Linked DNA regions of Homo sapiens. The protein of the gene in region 6 purifies or fractionates together with the protein of the main gene of each other region. This does not show direct contact. Each region holds a gene or a part of one and is shown on either strand. Other genes may lie near its edges. The genes, in order: LAMA4, NDUFAB1, GPC1, MTNAP1, GLG1, HADHA and OSBPL8.

Region 1 (4,160 bases), on a different chromosome or scaffold from region 6:
CAGTGGGAACATAATTACCTCAATCTCACCCTTTCTACACCATATACTTTGACCTTCCTGGAATGACTAATATCTTCTTTCTGTTTTTCAAAACTGAAGGCCTCCACTGGCATTCTGAACCTATTAGACTCTGACATTACTACAAATTTAATTCACTACGTGACATTTTTTTTCCAGCTGGAAGAATATAGATAAACAGATATAATAATATTAAGTAAAAGAAAACCATAAACATAAGGTTCTAAGGAATATTCTCAAATAAGGGTTTCTTTTAATCTGATCATCATCCACATTTTTTATAGTAACAATTGTAACAACTCTTGGCATATATAGGGCATTTATACTATGTCAAGCACTATGCTAAGCACTCTATTTTATCTAATTTCATTACAATAAAAGTATGAGGTATGAAGCAGGCATCAATAAATTCTGTCAGTATCAGTTTATCTGCAGTCTGGGGATCTGTAACTTGACCAAGGTCAAAGAGCTTGAAATTTCAACTTGGGACCATCAGACTGAAAACCTGCAATCTGAAACACTTTGCTGTGCTGCCTTCCTATTATTTCACCAAACATATGAGCACATAAGAAATTTCCTAGGGTCTTAGCATTAATTTTAAGGTTCTCTAAAACTCAAAAAATTACTTTCCTATTTTTTTTGTGGGATGAGAGTTACAAAAAACAGTTGTATATGGCTTGTCTCTTTAGACCTAACAGATACAAATACAGGATGCCCGGATAAATTTGAATTTCAGATGAACAATGAAAACAAATTTTAATATAAATATGTCCTCTGCAGTATTTGGGATGTGATCAAAATTCATTCATTATTTATCTGAAATTCACATTTGAGTGTCCTGCAATTTATCTGCCAATTTTACTCTTAAGTAAAATTAAGCATTTCATTCAGGGACTTTACGTGCTCAAAGCAACAGGTGGAGATAATGCTTCCCTGGGGTTAATTCCAAGCCTGTAGAGAAGCAAAGCCTTCCCATTGCATGAAGTCCCTCCTGGTCTGGCTTCTCCCCAAGTTTCTGGGTATGAAGTTGACCAGAAGCCATGCTCCCTCTTTTTCATGGAGGCTACATTTTATACCACAGTGAGAGGTTGGCATATTCTGACCCTGTCCACTCTCTTTTTTGGGGCAATGTGGGTAGGGCTTACTCTGAAGAAGGACCATGTTCATGCACCTTATTTTTAATCATCAATAATTAATAACTATAATTGTACTAACAATTAACAGAATTCATAGCAATAATCCATGCATCAGTGATGTTAGAAATGGTGTCAATCCACATAACTGTTTTAGTTGTACAGTTGCTGTAACCATAGCTATAGAGTGTGGTGTTTGTTTTGCTAGGTCAATTGCTCCTTCCTTTCCCATGAACTTAGGTGACTTTATTTTCCTCCCTCTTAGCATGTCCCATGCAATGGGCATGCTGTTGTCTGTTTCAGTTCAGGGGTTCTTAAATCACTTGTTCTGGATTCATTCTCCTTTACCAGACCTCTACATTCTGGTTTTGTTTCCAACTTAAAAGCTATTGTAAGGTATTCAAACAGCAGCTCTTTGAATAAACATATTATCAATAGCATATCCTGAGGCTTGATTTTAATGGAAACATCTTGTTTCTGGAATACAATGGCTCGTTTCTACTTAAGATACCCTCTCAGCAGTTGTCTAACAGCTCCTTTCATGACCAGCCACTCTCACTCACCCCCTCACCTTCCCTGCTGCAGAAGACTTCTTGTCTAATATGAGACAAAAAGATCCTGCAGTAGTGTTCCCACTGTCCTAACAGCACAGAGGAGCAGGAAGCCAGTGACAGGGCACACACGTTAAGTGCCGTGGCTTGACAAAATGACTACTGGGACACGCAAGTGGCAGAAGTCACCGATGTGCTGCTGCAGTCCCCGGTGAGAGTCTAGCGGATGAACTCAGAGCACCAACACATGCACTCTCACCCCTTTGAGCAGACACATTCCGAAGCCTCAACTTTCAACTCTCAACATCCAAATGCAACTTACAAAGGAAAACTCTTTATTTCAAGTTTCCGAACTGACCTAGCCCAGGTGAAACTCTCAAGGCACTGGGGAGAGGAAAGAGGCGGAGAGAGAGAGAAGGACGAGTGTGGCACAGCCCGCGGGGGCGCAGGTGCCCCAGCAGGGTGGCAATGGCAGGGACACTGTACCTCGGCCGCAGGCGGCAGGCGTCCCAGAGCCACGCGGGGTTCGCTCGTCTCAGGCGGGTCTTGCCTGCCAACCGCTGAGCTCCCTTCAATGTCAAAAGGAAAAGCGTTGTCGTCCCCGGACGCGGCGCGGGAGCAGGCAGCGCTCCAGAGGAGCCACAGAGGCAGAACCGAGCGCCAGGCTGAGCTCAAAGCCATTTCTCCGCTGACATCCAGTAGTGCTCTTCCAGGGCTCGGGCGCTGTGGGTCTCCGTAGGTCTCCCGCGTGGTGCGGCGGTGCCTCGCTTATTTTCCCTCCTCTCCGTGTGCAGTATCCCGAGGTGGCTGCGCAACCAGCAGCTTAGGAAATAAAGGGAAAGTGCGAGAGTAAGGGAGAGTTCCAGCCTCTCTCTCCCTCTCTCTCTCTCCCCTTCTCCCCCTCTCTCTCCCTCTCCCTCTCCCTCTTTCACTTTTTCTCCTTCCCGCAGAGGTTCTGGCTCAAGAACCTACAGATGGACGGAGCTTACAGTACGGCATCAAAAGGCAGACGGATTGGGGTGAGCCCCGCCAGCGCTAGGCCACCTCCTCTCCCTGGCCGTTCGGGACTGGGGACTGCGCTGTCCTGGCTTCCTTCTCACATTCATTCTCACCACTCCCTTTTTACCTTCTACTCCCAGGCCCTCCCACTCTAAGCTGGCTTTTCAGACACTGAGGTCCGCCTTTCCCTGCGGTCTTCCCTCCCCTCTCAGTTTGGAGCCCCTCCAAGGGCTCCAGAAGAATATTCAGCTTTTGTGACGCTTCCTCACCACTCTTATTTATGTAGTCAAGGTACCGGATGTCTTATCTATATTTACATAGATATTTTATGTGGCCCCCGCTAGTTTGCAGGAAAGTGGGTGGAAAAGGGATTCCAGGGCAGGAACCAAAGGTAGATGATCTCTGAAGGCAGAGGGTCAGGGTGCCCACTTTCTTGAGCAAGGTTTCTCGGGTTTTTTCTGGGGGATAGACTGTTGCACTCTTTGTGCTAATATCTTCTCTTCAGATTCACTGGCCACCCCTCTTCCTCCCTCCAGTCCTCACCCAGAGGGCTTGGGAGAAGAATATCTTTCACTGCAGCGCTGGAAAATGACTTCATTACCCAAATGCATGAACTTTTATTTACAAAGACCATCTTGTTTTCATCCTAAAGAGGTGCTTTGTAAGGGGCCCGGAACAAGGCTTGCAGTGTATGAGCCTGTCAAGTATACTGCCTACAGCCCCGGCCTCTTCCTCTTGGCCTGTAATCTCATGCCTACTACATCTGTCTGAATCATGTAACCTTTCCAAGACTTCAGGGTGAAGTTGGGCTACAGCTATGTCAGGGGTGCCCCTGTGGATGGGATAGTGTCTGCAACAGCTGATAGGTACCTTTGTTTACATTGGCTTCATAACGAGCTCTAAACATTTCCACAAGATCCAACCATGGTTTAAAAATGGTCAGATGAGACAACCATAAAATGACACCCAGGTAAGCTTCCAGGTGAAATAAAGCATTTTTGTATAACCTAATCATAAAATAAATAAATAAAGCCTTTCCATAAAACCTAATCATTAGCTCCATTTCATAGAACAAAAGTCATTTTATCTAAGTGTAAGCAAAACCATTTATTTTGCACCTAACATGTGCCAGATACTTGGCATATGCTATTTGTAAACCTCAGCATTCCTGCAAAGTAGTACCATTATTTTCCTTTTACAGAAGAAGAAAGTGAGGTTCAGAGAGACTAGGACATTTGCCCAAGGTCGCACAGCTGGTGGAAAGCAGAGATGGGGTTTGGATCCAGGCCTCACTGATTCCAAAGCTCTCTTTTACATCTGTATACACGACACTGCAACTTTAAAATAAAGAGTATGAATTCAGAGGTGAAGGAAATGGACACTTTTATTTTTTGAGTGCCTCCCATGTGCAAAAAAATCACATAAATTGTCTCATTTAGGGCTGGGCGTGGTGGCTCAT
Region 2 (2,902 bases), on a different chromosome or scaffold from region 6:
CTAAGCAATGCATACATGTTATTTACATCAACCCCAAGGAACCAACACAGTGCTAAGAGTAAAAGGGGCAGAACCAATAATGATGTGTGACAAATCAAACTGTGGTTTGATGTGTGGCAATGTCAAACTGACCTTCCAGGAGGAAAGAGAGCCTCCCATTCTCCAAAACTGTTAAACTGTATTAAAAGGGATCTTTAGGACAGTGATGAAAAACTAGTCCCACCTGCTGATATCAGCTGACACATCTGATAATAAGCTAATGGAAACCAAAACAAAGTTTTTTTTGAAGCAAAAAGTCCATTTCCATGAATATATTCACTCCTGATACGAAGGTGGGGAGACAGCCTTACTTCAAGTACATGGCTGGGGAAGCCATTGTTTTTGACATGCATGAATACAAATGACAAATCAGACCTTTAAAAATATTAAGCAATGTCAGTATACAAACATAAAAAAGCACTTTATAGACATCATTGAAAAACTGAAGATGGGGGAAAATGTTGGTTTTATAGATTTATTTTCAAAGAGTAAAACACATACAATTTAAATACAAGTCCATCAGAATCACTCTGTCAGAGTCAGCAAGAATGCCAAAATGTGTCCTCACTGCCAGACATTCGTCACTATCATCTGAGTCCTCTCTCAGCAAAGCCAAAGGGTCTGGAAAAGACAAAATAAGTTCAATGTTATTTTTGATGTATTCTTACTAATGATAAGTGACATCTTTCAGGTGCTAAAAATGCAGCCTCTGGCTGAGTGCAGTGGCTCATGCCCGTAATCTCAGCACTTTGGGAGGCCAAGCTGGGCGGATCACCTGAGGTCAGGAGTTCGAGACCAGCCTGGCCAACATGGTGAAACCCCATCTCTACTAAAAATATAAAAATTAGCTGGGCGTGGAGGTGCACGCCTGTAATCCCAGTTACTCAGGAGGCTGAGGCCGGAGAATTGCTTGAACCCAGGAGGCGGAGGTTGCAGTGAGCCGAGATTGTGCCACTACACTCCAGCCTGGGCAACAGAGCAAGGTTCCATCTTTAAAAAAAAAAAAAAAAAAATGCAGGGTCACTAAAAGCTAAAGACTAAAAACACTAATACAATGTTTTAATTCAAAAAGTCTTATTTGATTATTCTAGGTCCCAAGTAACAAAAGCTACTATTTACTGAGAGGCTTCTTTACATCATTATATCAAGTGATATATATACTCTCTTCAATTTTGCTTTCACAAAAGCCCCAGGTAGGTCCTATCATTACCACCATATTACATATGAGGAAACTGAGGCTTACAGAGCTAAGCAGCCTGCCTGAGACCACCAGGCTTATAGTGTGTGGCAAAGCTGAGAATAAACTTGGGTGTCTCTGACTCCAAAGTCCATCCTCTTATACATGAGGCCTCTCTTGCCTACTTAAGAGCCAGGTCACTTCAGTGTCTTACCCAGCAGGCTGGGCTTACCTTGGCTGAGTAATTGAGGGAGACAGAGGTCTGTTTCCAGGTTACCCTGTTCAGTACTTTGTACAATGTTCTGCTTTTGTGAGGACAGCTGACAATCAAGGGAGTTCTATCCAGGAATGACAGTTCTCAACCTCTCAAAGATCACCACCAGGGCTGGGCCCCTTTGAGTGGCAGACAACAGGAAAGGGCTTGCATTTTATAAGTAGTGAAAAATCTTGGTCAAGCATTTCCATTTTCTGTTTCTTCTTAAGTTTCCTTTATTGAAGAACCACAGACAAATCTATGGGTGAACATCATTTTTTAAGTCTATTTACCTGATACTTTATTCATATACATCCTTCTTATCTGCAATGTAATCTACAATTTCTTGTGGACACATTAACTTTTCAGCATCTATATCAGGAATTTCAAACCCTAAAAGAAAAATATACAACAATGTGAGAGAGTTAAAAAAAAAAAATCCTTTAGAACTGAACACACCTGACCCTTCTACAACAGCTACAAGTATATCAAAACTTTCAGCAACCTTGAATCCCATATAGGTTGTGGGCCAGTTAGCTTCTAGACAGTATGCATACAGGTTGGGTACGATGCTTTGGAGGTATGTTTGTTTGTTTGTTTGTTTGTTTGTTGAGATAGAATTCACATAATAGAAAATTCCTCCTTGTATATACCATATAATTTGGTAGTTTTTAGTATATTCACATTGTGCAACCATCACCATTGTGTAAAAGAAACCCAGCTCCCTCTCCCTCTCCCCACGGTCTCCCTCTCCCTCTCCCTCTTCCCACGGTCTCCCTCTCCCTCTCCCTCTCCCCAAGGTCTCCCTCTCCCTCTCCCTCTTCCCACGGTCTCCCTCTCCCTCTCCCTCTCCCTCTCTTTCCATGGTCTCCCTCTGATGCCGAGCCGAAGCTGGACTGTACTGCCGCCATCTCTGCTCACTGCAACCTCCCTGCCTGATTCTCCTGCCTCGGCCTGCCCAGTGCCTGCGATTGCAGGCACGCGCCGCCACGCCTGACTGGTTTTCGTATTTTTTTGGTGGAGACAGGGTTTCGCTGTGTTGGCTGGGCTGGTCTCCAGCTCCTAACCGCGAGTGATCTGCCAGCCTCGGCCTCCCGAGGTGCCGGGATTGCAGATGGAGTCTCGTTCACTCAGTGCACAATGTTGCCCAGGCTGGAGTGCAGTGGCGTGATCTCGGCTAGCTACAACCTCCACCTCCCAGCTGCCTGCCTTGGCCTCCCAAAGTGCCGAGATTGCAGCCTCTGCCTGGCCGCCCATCGTCTGGGATGTGAGGAGCCCCTCTGCCCGGCTGCCCAGTCTGGGAAGTGAGGAGCGCCCCTTCCCGGCCGCCATCCTGTCTAGGAAGTGAGGAGCGTCTCTGCCCGGCCACCCATCGTCTGAGATGTGGGGAGCGCCTCTGCCCGGCTGCCCAGTCTGGGAAGTGAGGAGCGCCT
Region 3 (3,500 bases), about 210 Mb from region 6:
AAATGAGGGCCGTCTGGGCTGGCAGGCCCTGCGAGTCAGGCAGCGACCACCACGAGCTGGGGCAGAGCAGAGGCCTCCCCTGACTTCCCTCCAGAGCCCCCTACCCTGGGGCTTCGTTAGGGGCTGGCCGGGGCCAGGCACCCCCAGGGCCTCGGGGCCTGGCTTAGGGTCCCTTGCTCCCCAGGTCCCCCTGGGCCCGGAGTGCTCGAGAGCTGTCATGAAGCTGGTCTACTGTGCTCACTGCCTGGGAGTCCCCGGCGCCAGGCCCTGCCCTGACTATTGCCGAAATGTGCTCAAGGGCTGCCTTGCCAACCAGGCCGACCTGGACGCCGAGTGGAGGAACCTCCTGGGTGAGCCCCCACCCGCGAGAGCGGCCTGGAACTGTCTTGGGGAGTGCACGACTGGGGGTCCTGGGGGGCGGGTGGTCCCTAGCTTAGAGCTTGGACCCAGGGACCTGATCAGGGATGCCCTGACCCGGGCCAGATCTGGGTGGTGCTGCAGGGTTGAGGGGCCAGGGTGCCTTTTGAATGTCCTGAGTGATGTGTGACTTGGGGCAGCTGCCAGGGAGGGAGCCCTGTGGGGTCATAGTTTCTTGTCCTTCCCCACTTAGCAAGCACCTCGGTGTGCATACATGCCAACACGTGTGACTCATCGAGGACCGGCACTTGTTTAAGCTAACACATACATGCACCGTCACATGACAGGCTGACACATGCGAACTGGCGTGCTCACTTGCTGACACACAGTGGGCCAGTGCCCACCAGTACAGCGTGTGCTCCTGGGCGCATGTGATGACATGAGCTGGGCTGACCCGCATCAATGCCAACACGTGTGTGGTAATATGTACATGCTTATCCAGATCCACTAACATGTACACATGCTTACATGAGGGGGGACAGCATGCATCTGTGCCAACACGTGCTAGCATGTGCTGACACGGGGCCAACAGGTGTGTGCTAACGTGATGGGAGCTGACAAAATGCATGAGCTTTACTTGTACATGTGCTCACCGTGCACGCAACACACACATGAACTAAGGTGTACATGGGGGGGGCATGAGGTAAGCCAGCATGCATACACACCAGCTCACACGGGCTCATGTGCACACAAGCTGGACCAAGGTGAGCCAGCGTATGTACATGTCAACACCTGCATGAGCCAGCGTGGACATACGAGACACGGCAGGCCAGCAAGCATGCAGAATGGCCTCTGTGTATGTGCGTGTTCACCTGTGCCCGTGGCACAGGTGCACACGTGGGTGTGGGCCAAGCTGAGTGCACGTGGCCTGCACATGTCACACGGGCCAACCTGAGTGCACACGTGGGATCTCCCATGCTGACCCGTGCTGTCAAGACTGCATTAACATGCACACGTGGTGACGCCTGCGTGTGCGTGTCAACGCCTGTGTGCGCGCGTTAACGCCTGTGTGTCCGCGTGTTAACGCCTGTCCTAGACTCCATGGTGCTCATCACCGACAAGTTCTGGGGTACATCGGGTGTGGAGAGTGTCATCGGCAGCGTGCACACGTGGCTGGCGGAGGCCATCAACGCCCTCCAGGACAACAGGGACACGCTCACGGCCAAGGTGCGGGCAGGAGGACGTGACGAGCACAGCGGGGTGGGGGTCCTGGATGTGGCCCCATTGGGCTTGAGGGGCCCCACTACCCCCCAAGGACCCTGCAGTGTCTCTCCAGGTCATCCAGGGCTGCGGGAACCCCAAGGTCAACCCCCAGGGCCCCGGGCCTGAGGAGAAGCGGCGCCGGGGCAAGCTGGCCCCGCGGGAGAGGCCACCTTCAGGCACGCTGGAGAAGCTGGTGAGTGGCCCCTGCGTGTCCACTGGACCAGGCATGAGGGAGGCAGACAGGCAGAGGCGGGCGGGCCCTGGCAGCCCAGTGGCCTGACTGCTGCCCCACAGGTCTCCGAAGCCAAGGCCCAGCTCCGCGACGTCCAGGACTTCTGGATCAGCCTCCCAGGGACACTGTGCAGTGAGAAGATGGCCCTGAGCACTGCCAGTGATGACCGCTGCTGGAACGGGATGGCCAGAGGCCGGTAGGTGCCCACCTGGCTGGCACAGCCCTCCCTCCCATGCCGCCTCCATTGGGCTGTGCCTGGGCCAGGTGCTGTCTGCACGGGGCCACGTCCCTTGCTGGAGGGCTTGAGCCCCACTTCTCTGCGGCCTGTGTGGGCTCTGCTCGGTCCCTGGAAGCTGCTGGGCATCTCAGGCTCAGAGCGTGGGAGAGTGTCCTGCTCAGGTGATGGCCCTTTGCAGGGGCTGGAGCAGTGACCTGGGCTCTGCCTGCCTTTCCCCCAGGTACCTCCCCGAGGTCATGGGTGACGGCCTGGCCAACCAGATCAACAACCCCGAGGTGGAGGTGGACATCACCAAGCCGGACATGACCATCCGGCAGCAGATCATGCAGCTGAAGATCATGACCAACCGGCTGCGCAGCGCCTACAACGGCAACGACGTGGACTTCCAGGACGCCAGTGAGGGCAGGGCCTGGCCGGGCGGCCAAGGGGCCAGGGTTGGTGGGGGTGCCACAGGGGTGTGACTGCCCTCCGGGTTCCCCCACCCGAGGGGCCCTCTGCTCCGGCATCACCACAGTGAGTCTGAGGACGCTGTGCTGCCCAGGCACGATCACCGAGCCCTGCACCTCTGCGGCGCCCTGGAGGCCTGGCCGGGATGTCTGTTGGCTTTGGCTCCAGGGACCAAGGGAGGCAGCCCCAGGGAGTGAGAGTCTCCCAGCCTCAGGGGTCAGCGGGGATCAGGTGCTGCTGGTCCTGGGATTCCACACCGAAAGGATGTTGGGGTCACCTGGCACGGGCCCTTACAGGGTGGTGCTGCACTGGGGTCTCCTGTGGGGACCTGCCTGCCGGAGCCTCCTCTCCTTCCCAGGTGACGACGGCAGCGGCTCGGGCAGCGGTGATGGCTGTCTGGATGACCTCTGCAGCCGGAAGGTCAGCAGGAAGAGCTCCAGCTCCCGGACGCCCTTGACCCATGCCCTCCCAGGCCTGTCAGAGCAGGAAGGACAGAAGACCTCGGCTGCCAGCTGCCCCCAGCCCCCGACCTTCCTCCTGCCCCTCCTCCTCTTCCTGGCCCTTACAGTAGCCAGGCCCCGGTGGCGGTAACTGCCCCAAGGCCCCAGGGACAGAGGCCAAGGACTGACTTTGCCAAAAATACAACACAGACGATATTTAATTCACCTCAGCCTGGAGAGGCCTGGGGTGGGACAGGGAGGGCCGGCGGCTCTGAGCAGGGGCAGGCGCAGAGGTCCCAGCCCCAGGCCTGGCCTCGCCTGCCTTTCTGCCTTTTAATTTTGTATGAGGTCCTCAGGTCAGCTGGGAGCCAGTGTGCCCAAAAGCCATGTATTTCAGGGACCTCAGGGGCACCTCCGGCTGCCTAGCCCTCCCCCCAGCTCCCTGCACCGCCGCAGAAGCAGCCCCTCGAGGCCTACAGAGGAGGCCTCAAAGCAACCCGCTGGAGCCCACAGCGAGCCTGTG
Region 4 (3,500 bases), on a different chromosome or scaffold from region 6:
GCACAGAGCTACGTAGGCAAATCACTCTACCTCAAGCCCGTTTTCTTTTTGGAAAATGAGCAGGATAGCACCTACGCCACAGGACTGTTTGAAACTAAAAGGAGAAAACACATGTAAAAAACCTTGCATGGCACTCGGCACAAAGCAAGCCCCAGATGTTGGCTGGATCTGCCTGTGGATTGCAGTAGGGCCTCTCTTCCTCCGTTCAAGGTTGGAATTTATATATAGTATGATGGCACATACTACAGGCTTTAGAACAGCTGCTGTCAATGAGTTCCTACCATCACAGACGTTGCTGGAATTAACACATGTAAGACTTCTAATCTCACCAAATGTCTGCAAAGTAGGAATAATTATCCCTAAATTACAGTACAAAGGAGGCTCCAGTAAACTGGGTAACTTACCCAGGGACACACCCACCCATTTCACAGGTGAGGCTCTAGAAGAGGCATATAATCAGCTCAGGGGAGTACTTTTTATATTTTACAAATAATTTTATTATGAAGAGTGGCGGAAGTAGTATGTAGATGCCCCATAAAGTATAAAAGAGTCTGCTGATAATAAAATGATTTTATTTTTAACAGCTAAAATAAATTTTAATGTGCATTAGAAAAACTACACATTCCCAAGTAAACTCAGTCTTTCAGATATTATTCAGGATTAAACAAGGCCGCCCCGAGGTTAATCCACTTACACAGACCACGTGTGAGTTACAGCCGGGGTATTCAGGCATGTCCGTGAATATTCCCAACTTGTAGTAACAGAACCTTCAAATACGTCCTCTCAAGCATGGACAGTAGCCTGGGTGTCACCATGCCTCTTCTGCGGGATGGATGGGAAGGTGAATATGGATTACGTGTATGGATTCTCACGCTGCATTTGTATGCACCTTGCAGGAAGATTCGGGAATTCAAGCTGCTGCCTGGAAGCAAGATCTAAGCGTTGCTTCTTACCTAGCGGGGCACTCCAATGCCACAGACAGGGCAGAACACGACTTTTACCCCCTCCTTCTGCAGCATGATTTTAAGAGACAAAACTTATAAGGCTGTTTAAAATGGTAAATCATGTTAGAGACGTTCTTTTTCTTTCCTTGGCTCTGTGAAGAGATGAGTAGTTACCCCGCCTCACACCTGAAGCGTACTGGCTTCTGTGGGTAGCAGTCTTACTTGTCTACTATTCGTTCTGAGGAGTCTTGTCTTTCTGGATGAAGCTTTTAATCTGGTGATCACATACATGATTGGAACTGGCTGTGCAAATGAACTGATAGGAATTTTGCATACATGAGCGAAAAATGTATCCTCACGAGGCAACTTTACATCAGTATTGCACCCTGGAGCTGTGAAGTGTGCTTCCTCGTCATGCTGAGTTTGTTTAGATCTAAATCTCAGAAAATAATCAGCTATCAGTTTACCTCAACAACGCTCTTAAACTATTCTGAACATTAAGAAGAGATTCTTGAAGGACTTGAGAAAACATCTTCAATTATTTTCCCAACCCAGGTGGCAGCAATGAGCAGACAAGGAAGCCTTTCCTTCCATTACTCTGTAGACATTTACAAGTCATCCCAGAATGTGGAGATGTTTCCAATGGCTTCTTGAAAGTTATCCACACTACTGTATTGTGGATTCTCAGTATCTAATTCAAAGAAGTCAGTGGAGACTTTTTGTTGTTTCCTACTATATGTGAGTTAGAATTCTTGGTACTTACCAATGTCAAACAAAAAAGCTGTCTTCTTATTAATACAGGATCTCACCTTTGCCTTAAACTTGGCAATACAAGGCAGATATCCTTTTAGGACTCATGGATCATTAAATAGTTCTATTCTCATTAAATAACTTATTTTCAGGGATATAAAATATTTACTGTGACTAAGTTAAACCTTTTCATTATGTTTCAGCACCCTGATTATGACAAGTGATACTACTTTATTTATAGCAGTGATACAAATGCTCCTGATAACCTTGAGGGCTGAAAAGCTATCCCTTAATGCTACCACTACACTTAGGTGTTACAGGGCAATTCAGTGGGCAACACAGGGCACGAAGGCACTAGAGAGAAGTCACGAAGGCTTCTCCTACTTAAACGTGCTTCCTAATCCAAACATGTTTTAGAGCGGCAATCCCCAGTCGTCTTCGCCACACCAATGCATGGAGGTACTGTGCTCTTCCAGGGCAGGGGTCGGCACAATTTTTCTGTAAAGGCCAGATAGTAAATATTTTCAGCTTTTCAGGGCATATGGTTTCTGTCGCAACTACTCGACTTTGCTGTTGTTGTGTGAAACAGCCATGGATGCCACCTAACCAAATGAGCAGGGCTTGTTTTTGTACATTTTGACTACATACAAAAACAAGGCAGTGGGCTGGCTTTGGTCCGTGGGTCACAGTGGGGTCTGCTGCCCCTGCTCGAGGGAACTGGGGGACCGGGAAAGAGGGTATTACTGAAGGTCATTCTCATCTACCTTCTCACCTTGAGAGTTTCTGGTCTTGAGTAAGGACACATGGGGAGGTGTGGAGAGAATCCTTAAGCATCTCTCCTAAAGAGCATTCACAGAGAATGGGCACAAAGCTCTTTCGGCAGGGAAGATTGTTCTGGGTTCCAATGAAGTTCTTAGTAATATTAAACTAAAATAACTGAATGTAGAACTCTTCCCCTCAACCACAACTTTTTTCCTTACAGAGAATTCTAGGATACAGGGATATATTGCTGAATACCTTAACTATGAGAATTTGTTGCAGAATTAAATTACTCCCACTAGGGATGGAAAGGAGCAGGGGATTGGGAATAGAAAAGGTAGGTAAAAAGTAGCCCCAGCATTCCAGCTTTGAGAAGAGAGAGAAACGACATACAAGTCAACACATGCTGGCTGTGGCTTTCCTGTAGGTTTTTTGGGATTTTTGAGACAAGGTTTCACTTCCATCACCCAGGCTGGAATGCAATGGCACAATCTCAGCTCACTGCAGCCTCCGCCTCCTGGGCTCAAGTGATTCTCCTGCCTCAACCTCCTGAGTAGCTGGGACTACAGGCGTGTGCCACTGAGCTCAGCTACTTTTTACAATTTTTTTTTTGTAGAGATGGATTTCACCACATTGCACAGGCTGATCCTGAACTCCTGACTTCATGATCCGCCCGCCTTGGCCTACCAAAGTGCTGGGATTACAGGCGTGAGCCACCGCACCCAGCATTCCTGTAGTTTTAAAAGAGCTGGGACATAAGAGGAACTGACCTCATGTATTTTGGCATGAGGACACCACAAGCAAAGCTGAGACAGACGGGTGTGTGCGTGTGATATATAACTAACCCTCTACGTTAGAAAGGAGGTTGGGGAAACACTTATCCATCAACGTTGCCTAAATTTCCTCAAAGCTTTTTCTACCTGTAAGTATCCAAGTTACTCTCTGTGGGCCAAAGCAGAAGTCAAAAAATCAGACACTGAATAGTTTGATGAGATGAAGAGACACAGAAAACCCACCAGCCAAAAACAACCCTAACAAATGGAGAGG
Region 5 (3,500 bases), on a different chromosome or scaffold from region 6:
CCAGCTACTCGGGAGGCTGAGGCAGAAAAATCACTTGAACCCAGGAGGCAGAGGTTGCAGTGAGCCAAGAATACGCCATTGCACTCCAATCTGGGCGACTGAGAAAGATTCCACCTCAAAAAAAAAAAAAAAAAAAAAAACAAAAAAAAACAGTGACAGAAATTTCAAGCTAAGAATAGCAGAGCTGTGTTCCACCCAAATCTAAATCCTAATTTTGTCTTATTACACTGCCCTAAAATAATTTACTATCTGTATGACATCAAGTGATTAACACTCTTATATAATCGCTTCTCGATCACAACAATCTCACTTATCAAACCAACTGTAAGCAATGGTGGTGTCTTAAAGTACTAGTGTCCTTCCACAATGATAGGTGTATAATAGAAGATCAATAATGACTTGATTATGTGGTTAGATTGCTTCCAACCAGACAGACAGCATAGGAGGAAATTCCATATTGGCTCAAACAAAACAATCATAATATATCCTAAAGCCAAACAATGTTTGGATTAATTGCTGTTTGAATTATTCATTGTCACTGATTCCCTCCATGAATGAATATGGAATCAGGAACTGGTACATATATAATCCTAGAAACTTTACAATATATACATACCCAGAGAATATATACAGGAAACGACTCATATAAGTTAGACAGCAGAGATCTTAGAAACCGTACTGTAGGGGCAGGGTGTGGTGGCTCCGCCTGTAACCTCAGCATCCGGGAGGCAGAGGAGGGTGGGTCGGTTGAGCTCAGGAGTTAGAGACCAACCTGGGCAACCCGGCAAGACCTTGTCTCTCTTAAAATTAAAAAAAAAAAAAAGTATACCCCAACTACTCATTTAACACATCAGGAAGCAGAGAGAGAAAATGCTTACAGTCATTTGTTAGTTAATGGCACTGACAGCTCTAGTCTCAGTTCACTTTTTGTGATGTTCCATGGATTCAATATAAATATCAAGGAAATACAACTAAATGCTTCCAGTGTTCTAGTACAAATCCTGCTTAAGGTGAGTTGGGATTTGAAACTCTTTTCATAAAGCAGAAATTCGGTTTATGATGCACTCAGACTAATTAAATTAGCGTTGGGTGATAACGCATTTGCCTGAGAAATCTACAAATACTTCAATGCACTGTTACAACTCAGTTGTTCTTGTGTCCCATTTAGCATACATTTATAAACCTATGGCATTCTCAACAGTCACAGACTAATGTCCTTAGCTACAACCACCCATGGTACATTAGAAAGAGTATGGTCTTTTAAGTCAAAAAGGACTTCCTGAACACCAGCTCTACCACTTAGGATATAACATCAGACAACTTACTTTAGCTCTTTGAGCCTATTTCTCTGCTAAAAGAATAACACTAGCACTAGCACTAGCACCTCATTATCATTATCATTGATAATGATAGTCATTATCAACAGTGAGACAATAGAGATGGTGTAGTCCACTATCTCAAGTATACAGTTAAGTGAAAGGTTAAAAGCAGAGTATAAAAATATTTACCTATGAGTCTAAAAGGGGGTTTATGGTTTGCAACACTGAAATGTTAATTCCTGTTCAATACCTAAATTAGTTTATTTAAATATTTACAAAGCATTCACTCTGTGCAAAGCTTAGAGCATGGCTACAAATTTATAATCTGAGACTGATATATCAAGAAAAGGTGGCAAGAAAGAATTTTTTTATGTTTTTCTTTTTAGTGTCAGAATTACTTGCAAAAGAAAGATTATACATTTAAATACAAAAACAAACAAAAAAAACCTTCTAGTTTTTAAAAAGTATTTATCACAGACATGCTTGAAGTATTTGAAATGACAGTATCTGGGATTTGCTTTTAAATATGCCAGCCTCCCAACCCTGTGCCCTAAAAATAAAAGGGCGGGGCTGGGCGCGGTGACTCACGCCTGTAATCCCAGCACTTTGGGAGGCCGAGGCGGGCAGATCACGAGGTCAGGAGTTCGAGACTAGCCTGGCCAATATAGTGAAACCCTGTCTCTACTAAAAAATACAAAAATTAGCCGGGTGTGGTGGCGGATGCCTGTAGTCCCAGCTACTTGGGAGGCTGAAGCAGGAAAATCGCTTGAACTCGGGAGGCTGAGGTTGCAGTGAGCCAAGATCGTGCCCCTGCACTCCAGCCTGGGTGACAGAGTGAGACTCTGTCTCTCAAAAAAAAAAAAGGGTGGGAACAGTTGAAGCTGGGTGATGTATACCCAGGGACTCATTACCCTATTCTCTCTACTTCTGTGTAAGAAAATCTATGGGGCACGCACAATGGCTCATGCCTGTAATCCAGCAGTTTGGGAGGCCGACGCAGGCAGATCACCTAAGGTGAGGAGTTCAAGACCAGCCTGGCCAAGGTGATGAAGAGGCTGAGACAGGAGAATCACTTGAACCCAGAAGGCAGAGGTTGCAGTGAGCCAAGATTGTGCCACTGCACTCCAGCCTGAGCAACAGGGCAAGACTTCGTCTCAAACAACAACAACAACAACAACAGCAGCAGCAGCAGCAGCAGCCAGGCGCAATAGCTCATGACTGTAATCCCAGCACTTTGGGAGACCAAGGTGGGCAGATCATGAGGTCAGGAGATCAAGACTATCCTGGCCAACATGGTGAAACTCTGTCTCTACTAAAAATACAAAAATTAGCTGGGCGAGGTGGTGCGTGCCTGTAATCCCAGCTACTTGGGACGCTGAGGCAGAAGAACTGCTTGAACCAGGGAGTCAGAGGTTGCAGTGAGCCGAGATCACACCACTGCACTCCAGCCTGGCAACAGAATAAGACTCCGTCTCAAAAAAAAAAAAAAAAGAAAATCTAATCTATGAACATCACAAACTTTTTATTAGAGACGGTGTCTCACTATGTTGCCAGGCTGGTACTGAACTCCTAGCTCAAGCAATCCTCCTGCCTCAGCCTCCCAAAGGGCTAGGATTTCAAGTGTGAGCCACTGCGCCCGGCTGAACACCACAAACTTCTAAGGAACCAAGGTCTCCATCTGAAACTTCGAAATACAAGACACTAGTGGAAAAAAAAAAAGTGCTACTGGCCATTTCAACCAAGAATAAGTAAAGTATTTTAAAATGACTGACAACATCAAGCATGCCTTCCTTATCACATACTAAGCAACAGTATCTTCTCTTTCTTTGGTATTATTACTCCACCTACTAGAACAGCCCAGGGAATATTTTTTCTTTTCTGCCTTACACTTTCTAATTTTTTGTTTTTATTTAAATAACTTGAACTACTAATAATTATACACACACAACTAGGACTACTAACACACCATTACTGGCTATTACATCTATTATTTCATAGTGGACCCATGATATACTTGGCCTTTTTAAAAGCATGACTCATCCGAGAGCGTTAAAAAAAAAAAAAAAGAATCCCAAGGCCAGGCACAGTGGCTCACAACTCTAATCCCAGCACTTTGGAAAGCCCAGCTGGGAAGATCACTTGAACCCGGAATGTGGAGGCTTCAGTGAACTCTCAAACCCA
Region 6 (3,500 bases):
GCGGGCGCCTGTAGTCCCAGCTACTTGGGAGGCTGAGGCAGGAGAACAGTGTGAAACCGGGAGGTGGAGCTTGCAGTGAGCCGAGATCGCGCCACTGCACTCCAGCCTGGGCGACAGAGTGAGACTCTGTCTCAAAAAAAAAAAAAAAAATTCTGGATCCAGAAAACATAAATGTGTTGCATAATTTATTTTTACTTCTGTAATAAATCATTAAATTACAAAGCTTGGTACAAGGGAAAATCATCTTTGGTAAATTACTTCACTATCAGATTAAACATTTCACTATCAGGTAGTTAACAGCAATAAAAATGACGCAAAAGAAAAGCTTCCAGGTTGTTTAGAGAAATCTAAAACATTTTAACAGATCCCACTAATGAATAAAAATGACCAGGTAGGCCAGGCATGGTGGCTCATGCCTGTAATCCCAGCACTTTGAGAGGCCAAGGCAGGTGGATCACCTGAGGTCAGGAGTTCGAGACCAGGCTGGTCAACATGGTGAAACCGCGTCTCTACTAAAAATACAAAAATTAGCTGGGCGTGGTGCTGCATTCCTGTAGTCCTGGCTACTCGGGAGGCTGAGGCGAGAGAATCACTGGAACCTGGGAGGTGGAGGTTGCAGTGGGCCGAGATCGCACCACTGTACTCCAGCCTGGACAGCAGAGGGAGACTCCGTCTCAAAAATAAATAAGTAAATAAAAATGATCAGGTGCAATGATGTTCCACTCAATGTCCTTTAATTTCAGTTTGTTTCATTTGCTATTTTGTGAACACACTTAGGATATGGATTTTGTACTTTTGACCAAGGATAACTAGTATATTCTGTAATTTTATACACTGAGAGTTGCTCAGCTGGCCTCATAGAAGCTACATGTATTTTCCTCTGGATATAGGTAGCTACTGCCAGGTACATCAGTGTCTTGTTAGACTTTATAAATGTTCTGTTTAATGTTAATTTTTTAGAAGACCCAAAATTATCTTATCAAGTGGTTTTTCTTCTAGCTGAATTATTTGTGCCTAACAAGAGACTGATTACTACACATAAATAATTACACTTTCAGTACAAATTACTAAACCTACAATGCTGGCTATCATTGTCTAAAATACAAAGAACATAACAAATACCCATATTTTAATGGAATTGACAACTTAACATTTTAACCTATTAAACTGACACTAAAATATCATTTCCCCTCCTTATGTATGTGTAAACAATTGTAAATAAGTTAATGTAGGCATGCATTCCACCATTTAGCAGAGGAAAAGAAAATACTAGCTGCATCTGTAAAGCTGCCTTTAACAATCAAGTCCTACCACCCACTTCATTTCCCCAAAGCAGCCATCTTCATGTTTGTAGTGTCTCCTTCCAGACCAACTACGATTGTGTCCATAAATAGTATCAAGAATTATTCCATGTTTGGTTTTAAAACATTTATAGAAACTATATACTGTATGAAACATTCTGCAATTTGCTTTTCTTTTAACTTAACCTTATGTTTTTGAGTTCTAACATCATATTGTGGATCTAGTTAATTCCTTTTACCTGTTTTGTAGTATTCTATTGTGTGAATAGTCCACATTTTACTTACCCATTTTCCTACTGACTGACATTTGGTTTTAAATTCTTCATTATTTCACACTACACAGGACCAAACATCCTTGTACACTGGTTCTTATAAACAAGGGGTGAGATTTCTCTAGATCACATGATGTGTGTGTGTGTGTGTGTGTATATATATATATATATACTCTGTGTGTGTGTGTGTGTGTGTGTGTGTGTGTGTGTGTGTGTATATACTTTTTTTTTTTAAGACAGTCTCACTCTGTCACCCAGGCTGGAGTGCAGTGGTGTGATCTCGGCTCACTGCAACCTCTGCCTCCCAGGTTCAAGGGATTTTCGTGCCACAGCCTCCTGAGTAGCTGAGATTACAAGCGTGTGCCACCATGCCTAATTTTTGTATTTTTAGTGGAGACAGGGTTTCACCATGTTGGCCAGGCTGGTCTTGAGCTCTTGGCCTCATGTGATCCACCTGCCTCGGCCTCCCAAAGTGCTGGGATTACAGGCAAGAACCACCACACCCAGCCTGATACGTACATTTTCAATTTTACAGGCCTGTGTCACTGTGCCCAGCACTTCTACTTTCTTTTAAAAGGAGAAATTATTAGGCCTAAGAAACACACTATTAACCAAGATAAAAGGTGACTTCAAGTTTCCTAAAACTTACTTGATATCAGCACCTGCAATAAAGCAGCCTGGCTTTGATGAGATAAGGACGGCACTTCTGATTTGATCACTAGCCCAGATTTCATTCATAACTTCTGAGAACTCTGAATGTAGCTCTTTACTCAGTGTATTTACCTGCCAAAGGGAAATATATACAGGTAAGGGTTTAAATTTGAAGCACTGGATGTACGTACCACCATCAAATGCTATTTTGATTATAAGAAATATACTTATCCGGCAGAAATATACTGTTAGAAGAGAGTAAGAAATATCATTCTCCCAGCAAGTCAGTAGCTTTCTATTCAGGCAGCTTTGGCCCACTACAAGCACCCCTTCCTTTAAAAATAGGTCTTCTCAAAGGAGAAACTCAGGGTCATCCTCAGAGTTTGAATCATATGTAGGCTATAAACAAATAGGTCTACAAACATTTATTGGCATGGAAAAAATCTGCATAATGTTAAGAAAAAAATGAAATACAAATAAGACATATAGGCCAGGCATGGTGGCTCATCCCTGTAATCCCTGCACTTTGGGAGGCCAAGGTGGGCGGATCACTTGAGTTCAGGAGTTCGAGACCAGCCTGGGCAACATAATGGAACCTTGCCTCTACAGAAAATACAAAAATTAGCCGGGCCTGACAGCACACGCCTATAGTCCCAGCTACTCAGGAGGCTTAGGTGGGAGGATCACCTGAGCCTGGGGAGGCTGAAGCTGCACTAACCTGTGACTGTGCCACTGCACTCCAGCCTAGGCAACAGAATGAGACCCTATCTTCAAAAAAAACCATATAGTATGATCTTAGTTTTGTAAATATTATTCATTGAAACTGAATTAAATGTGATTATCCCATGGAAGATACCAAGAAAAAGATGTGGTTATCTTTAGGTTTGAATTATGAATGTTTATTATTTTCTTCTTTATAATTTTTTATAGTTGAAAAATTTTCTACCATTGACATATATTACTTTTGTGTTCAGGAAAAATGTCCAACCTAAGAAAATTCTGAAAAAATATCTTAAGCTTGAATCATTGGTTAGTGAGTGCTAAAATTTACTCTAGTAAAGGGGAATGGCTCTTATTTACCTTAATTTGTGATAGTTGTCAACTGCTTCCATCTAGGTCTTATTACATCTAAGCCTCTGGCTATAAGTTTGTTGTTGTTGTTTTTTAGAGAGACAAGGTCTTGCTCTGTGGCCCAGGCTGGAGTGCAGTGGTGCAATCATAGCTCACTGTAACCTTGAATTCCTAGGCTTAAGTGATCTTTCCACCTCAGCCTTCA
Region 7 (3,500 bases), on a different chromosome or scaffold from region 6:
AAATAGGGATAATAATACCAGACTTCACAGGGTTGTTGTAAGGTGTATTTAACATACAGTCTGGCACAAATTAATTACTCAATAAATGTCTGCTGATACATTATAGTAATATAGTAAAGTGGATGACAGGGTGAATTAAGGAGCCAAAAAATCTGCATATATAACATACATATACCTACTTATGGGGTATGTGACCTTAGGCAGGTTAACTTGTGTCTCAGTTTCTTTTCTCGTAAAATGGGAATAACAACAATACAACCAATACTCTCTTCTAACACACTGGTATGCCACATGACTCCTGCTTTTAAACCTTTATTCGGTTCATTCCTCTAACTACTCTAGTATGTTACCCCTACCCCACTCTCCAAGCCTAGATTGCTATAATCCATTAGAAATCTTAATAATTCATCAGGATTCTAAGAACTTTCCCTCAAACTGAATTGAGCTCCCTCTCCTTTAAACTCTTTATCACTTGTCATCTAATTTCTTAGTAATCTACCATTTATTCACTTCTAGTGTTATCTTTATAGGTTAAAATGAGCTCCCTAGTTCAGTGTAAACTCAGTAGAGATTATGGCTTAAAGTTTTTTTTTTTTTGTCATGTCACAAACATCACTTTAATCCTTTCATGATTATATCTCAATGTAGTTCAAGATACTTTACACATTATCTGACTCGAATAAGAATGGAGTACAATTTAAGCTAGCAGTTGCTAAGTTTTATATTTTTATTGTCTGTCACTTCCAAACACTACAGTAATTTATTCTGGAAATGAAAAACATTTTTGAAGCATGGAACTGAGTTCAAAGCTCAAAAAATGCTTCTGAATTCAATCTAGGGAACCATCAGCAATTTTTCAGAGGTTAACAAGGCATAAGAGGTAGCTACTACTAGAGTGTGGTTCTTTTTTTTTTTTTTTTTTTTTTGAGACAGGGTCTCACTTTGTCACCCAGGCTGGAGTGCAGTAGTGTGATCTCGGTTCAGTGCATCTTCCATCTCCGGGGTTCAAGCAATTCTCGTGTCTCAGCCTCCCAAGTAGCTGGGATTACAGGTGTGCACCACCGCACCTGGCTAATTTTTTCATATTTTTAGTAGAGACGGGGTTTCCCCATGTTAGCCAGGCTGGTCTTGAACTTTTGGCCTCAAGTGATCTGCCCACCTCGGCGTCCCAAAGTACTGGGATTACAGGCATGAGCCACCACACCCTGCCTAGAGTGTGGTTTTTATTTAGATGTCTCCCCTTTTTCATTTTCTGTTTCTTTACCTTGCGTCCTGGTCTCACAACTTATCTATGATCTAGAATTGCTTTTGTATCTCAACCCTGCCCCGACCAAAACTCACATAACTTGAGTTAATATGAAAAACCATATTCATATCAAATTGTGTAGTAATTAAAAAGTTAGACTCTCATTAGTCTGCAATAAATATTTTTACCTTCACTTCCAGAGGAGTCTTGAATGTCAGGTTCTGGGGAGGAATAGCCTTTTGCTACTTTCTTCTGTTGCCTGGTTGGCTTATGTTTCATTTTGGGGACGCTAACCTAAAGAAAAAAATAACTATTTTGTGAATTTGCACTGTATTTTGGACTAAAGACCAACTGTGTACAATTGTCAAAATTATCTGCACATAGGCATGATATTCAGAAATAAAGACAATGATGAAATAGTCTAATTCAAATTTAACAAATGTGATGCACTTATGCAATCAAATGATCTTATTTTAATAGGAAGTACTTTGGCACAAATGTCAAAAAGTAAAATACACAATGAAGAGTATACCCAGTCTCTCTCCCACTAAATAGGTACCCATCACTATTAGTTTATATCCAGGGATATTATTATGTATACATAAACAAATATGAATATAGATCCCCCTACCTCTGACTGCACCAGCTATTATTATTCTCTAGTAGAATGTTAAATAATAGAATGTTAAATAATAGTGTGTATAAATCATATTTATTTTGTTCCCAATGTTAGAAACATTCCCACTGAACAATGCTGGGTTTCCAGTAAAACGGTTTATTTACTTTTAATCACATCTGGGTAGTACAGAAAGTATCTTATAATAAATAAAAATGATACCATTATTTTGTAGAGCATTATTTAAACTTACTGAAAGGATTGAAGTGGATGCACAAGATTCAAAAGTATATGAAACCATCAACTATGACTAAATTTTCCTTAGAATAATAACTTTGGACTCTATCCTATTAATAGATTTGTAATTTTGGTGTTCAGTATTAAACTTAAAAACCTAAATGCAAGAGAAGAAACTAGAATCAGAAAGACAAGATGTATTAGTCAGTTTTTATGCTCCTGATAAAGACATTCCCGAGACTGGGATGAAAAGGAGGTTTAATTTGACTTATGGTTCCACATGTCTGCAGAGGTCGCAAAATCATGGCAGATGGCAAAAGGCACTTCTTACATTGTGGCAGCAAGAGAGAATGAGGAAGATGCAAAAGTGGAAACCTCTGATAAAACCATCAGATCTCGTGAGACTTATTCACTACCACGAGAACAATATGGGGGAAACTGCCCCTATGATTCAAATGATCTCCCACTAAGTCCCTCCCACAACACGTGGTAATTATGGGAGTACAATTCAAGGTGAGATCCCACCAAGTCCCTCCCACAACACGTGGGAATTATGGGAGTACAATTCAAGATGAGATTTGGGTGAGGACACAGAGCCAAATCGTATCATTCTACCCTGGCCCCTCCAAATCTCATGTCCTCACATCTCAAAACCAATCATGCCTTCCCAACAGTCCCCCAAAGTCTTAATTCATTTCAGCATTAACCCAAAAGTCCACAGTCCAAAATCTCATCTGAGACAAGGCAAGTCCCTTCTGCCTATGAGCCTGTAAAATGAAAAGCAAGCTAGTTACTTTCTAGATACAATGGGGGTACAGGCATTGGGTAAATACAACTGTTCCAAATGGGAGAAATTTGGAAACAAAGGGGTCATAGGGCCCATGCAAGTCTGAGATCCAGTGGGGCAGTCAAATTTTAAAGCTCCAAAATTTTAAAGCTCCAAAATGATCTCCTTTGACTCCACGTTTCATATCCAGATCATGCTGATGCAAGAGGTAGGTTCCCATAGTCTTGGGCAGCTCCACCCTTGTGGCTCTGCAGGGTATCCCCTCCTGGCTGCTTTCATGGGCTGGCGCTGAGTGTCTGCGGCTTTTCCAGGTGCACAGTGCAAGCTGTTGGTGGATCTACCATTCTGGGGTCTAGAGGACGGTGGCCCGCTTCTCACAGCTCCACTAGGCAGTGCCCCAGTAGGGACTCTGTGGGGGGCTCCGACCCCAGATTTCCCTTCTGCACTGTGCTAGCAGAGGTTCTTCATGAGGGCCGTGCCCCTGCAGCAATCTTTTTCCTGGGTATCCAGGCGTTTCCATACATCTTCTGAAATCGAGGTGGAGGTTCCCAAACCTCAATTCTTGACTTCTGTGCACCACAGGCTCAACACCATGTGGAAGCTGCCAAGGTTTG

The links.
Region 1: the proteins of HADHA (region 6) and LAMA4 purify together in Homo sapiens (affinity purification with mass spectrometry; one large-scale study listed by BioGRID and IntAct). This does not show direct contact.
Region 2: the proteins of HADHA (region 6) and NDUFAB1 purify together in Homo sapiens (co-immunoprecipitation; 2 studies listed by IntAct, with this or other methods). This does not show direct contact.
Region 3: the proteins of HADHA (region 6) and GPC1 purify together in Homo sapiens (co-immunoprecipitation; 3 studies listed by BioGRID and IntAct, with this or other methods). This does not show direct contact.
Region 4: the proteins of HADHA (region 6) and MTNAP1 purify together in Homo sapiens (co-immunoprecipitation; 2 studies listed by BioGRID and IntAct, with this or other methods). This does not show direct contact.
Region 5: the proteins of HADHA (region 6) and GLG1 purify together in Homo sapiens (co-immunoprecipitation; 2 studies listed by BioGRID and IntAct, with this or other methods). This does not show direct contact.
Region 7: the proteins of HADHA (region 6) and OSBPL8 purify together in Homo sapiens (co-immunoprecipitation; 2 studies listed by BioGRID and IntAct, with this or other methods). This does not show direct contact.

The regions. Positions count from the first base shown.
Region 1 is NC_000006.12:112,251,768-112,255,927, forward strand, and holds the start of LAMA4 (laminin subunit alpha-4 isoform 1 precursor), read right to left. Parts: upstream 2,801-4,160; 5' UTR 2,692-2,800; exon of another isoform or gene 2,675-2,691; intron 2,525-2,674; 5' UTR 2,384-2,524; coding exon 2,189-2,383; coding exon of another isoform or gene 2,021-2,188; intron 1-2,020. UniProt on the Homo sapiens protein: Binding to cells via a high affinity receptor, laminin is thought to mediate the attachment, migration and organization of cells into tissues during embryonic development by interacting with other extracellular matrix components.
Region 2 is NC_000016.10:23,580,514-23,583,415, forward strand, and holds the end of NDUFAB1 (acyl carrier protein, mitochondrial precursor), read right to left. Parts: intron 1,863-2,902; coding exon 1,771-1,862; 3' UTR 1,763-1,770; intron 661-1,762; 3' UTR 501-660; downstream 1-500. UniProt on the Homo sapiens protein: Carrier of the growing fatty acid chain in fatty acid biosynthesis.
Region 3 is NC_000002.12:240,463,163-240,466,662, forward strand, and holds part of GPC1 (glypican-1 precursor), read left to right. Parts: intron 1-184; coding exon 185-350; intron 351-1,453; coding exon 1,454-1,584; intron 1,585-1,693; coding exon 1,694-1,813; intron 1,814-1,914; coding exon 1,915-2,048; intron 2,049-2,310; coding exon 2,311-2,486; intron 2,487-2,895; coding exon 2,896-3,128; 3' UTR 3,129-3,500. UniProt on the Homo sapiens protein: Cell surface proteoglycan that bears heparan sulfate. Binds, via the heparan sulfate side chains, alpha-4 (V) collagen and participates in Schwann cell myelination.
Region 4 is NC_000017.11:73,245,933-73,249,432, reverse strand, and holds the end of MTNAP1 (mitochondrial nucleoid-associated protein 1), read right to left. Parts: intron 2,193-3,500; coding exon 2,092-2,192; 3' UTR 940-2,091; coding exon of another isoform or gene 897-939; 3' UTR 474-896; downstream 1-473. UniProt on the Homo sapiens protein: Critical regulator of mitochondrial DNA (mtDNA) abundance. Binds dsDNA throughout the mitochondrial genome without sequence specificity and controls mtDNA copy number by promoting its replication.
Region 5 is NC_000016.10:74,600,615-74,604,114, forward strand, and holds part of GLG1 (Golgi apparatus protein 1 isoform 3 precursor), read right to left. Parts: intron 1-3,500. UniProt on the Homo sapiens protein: Binds fibroblast growth factor and E-selectin (cell-adhesion lectin on endothelial cells mediating the binding of neutrophils).
Region 6 is NC_000002.12:26,234,633-26,238,132, forward strand, and holds part of HADHA (trifunctional enzyme subunit alpha, mitochondrial precursor), read right to left. Parts: intron 2,357-3,500; coding exon 2,223-2,356; intron 1-2,222. UniProt on the Homo sapiens protein: Mitochondrial trifunctional enzyme catalyzes the last three of the four reactions of the mitochondrial beta-oxidation pathway.
Region 7 is NC_000012.12:76,357,272-76,360,771, forward strand, and holds part of OSBPL8 (oxysterol-binding protein-related protein 8), read right to left. Parts: intron 1,541-3,500; coding exon 1,435-1,540; intron 1-1,434. UniProt on the Homo sapiens protein: Lipid transporter involved in lipid countertransport between the endoplasmic reticulum and the plasma membrane: specifically exchanges phosphatidylserine with phosphatidylinositol 4-phosphate (PI4P), delivering phosphatidylserine to the plasma membrane in exchange for PI4P, which is degraded by the SAC1/SACM1L phosphatase in the endoplasmic reticulum.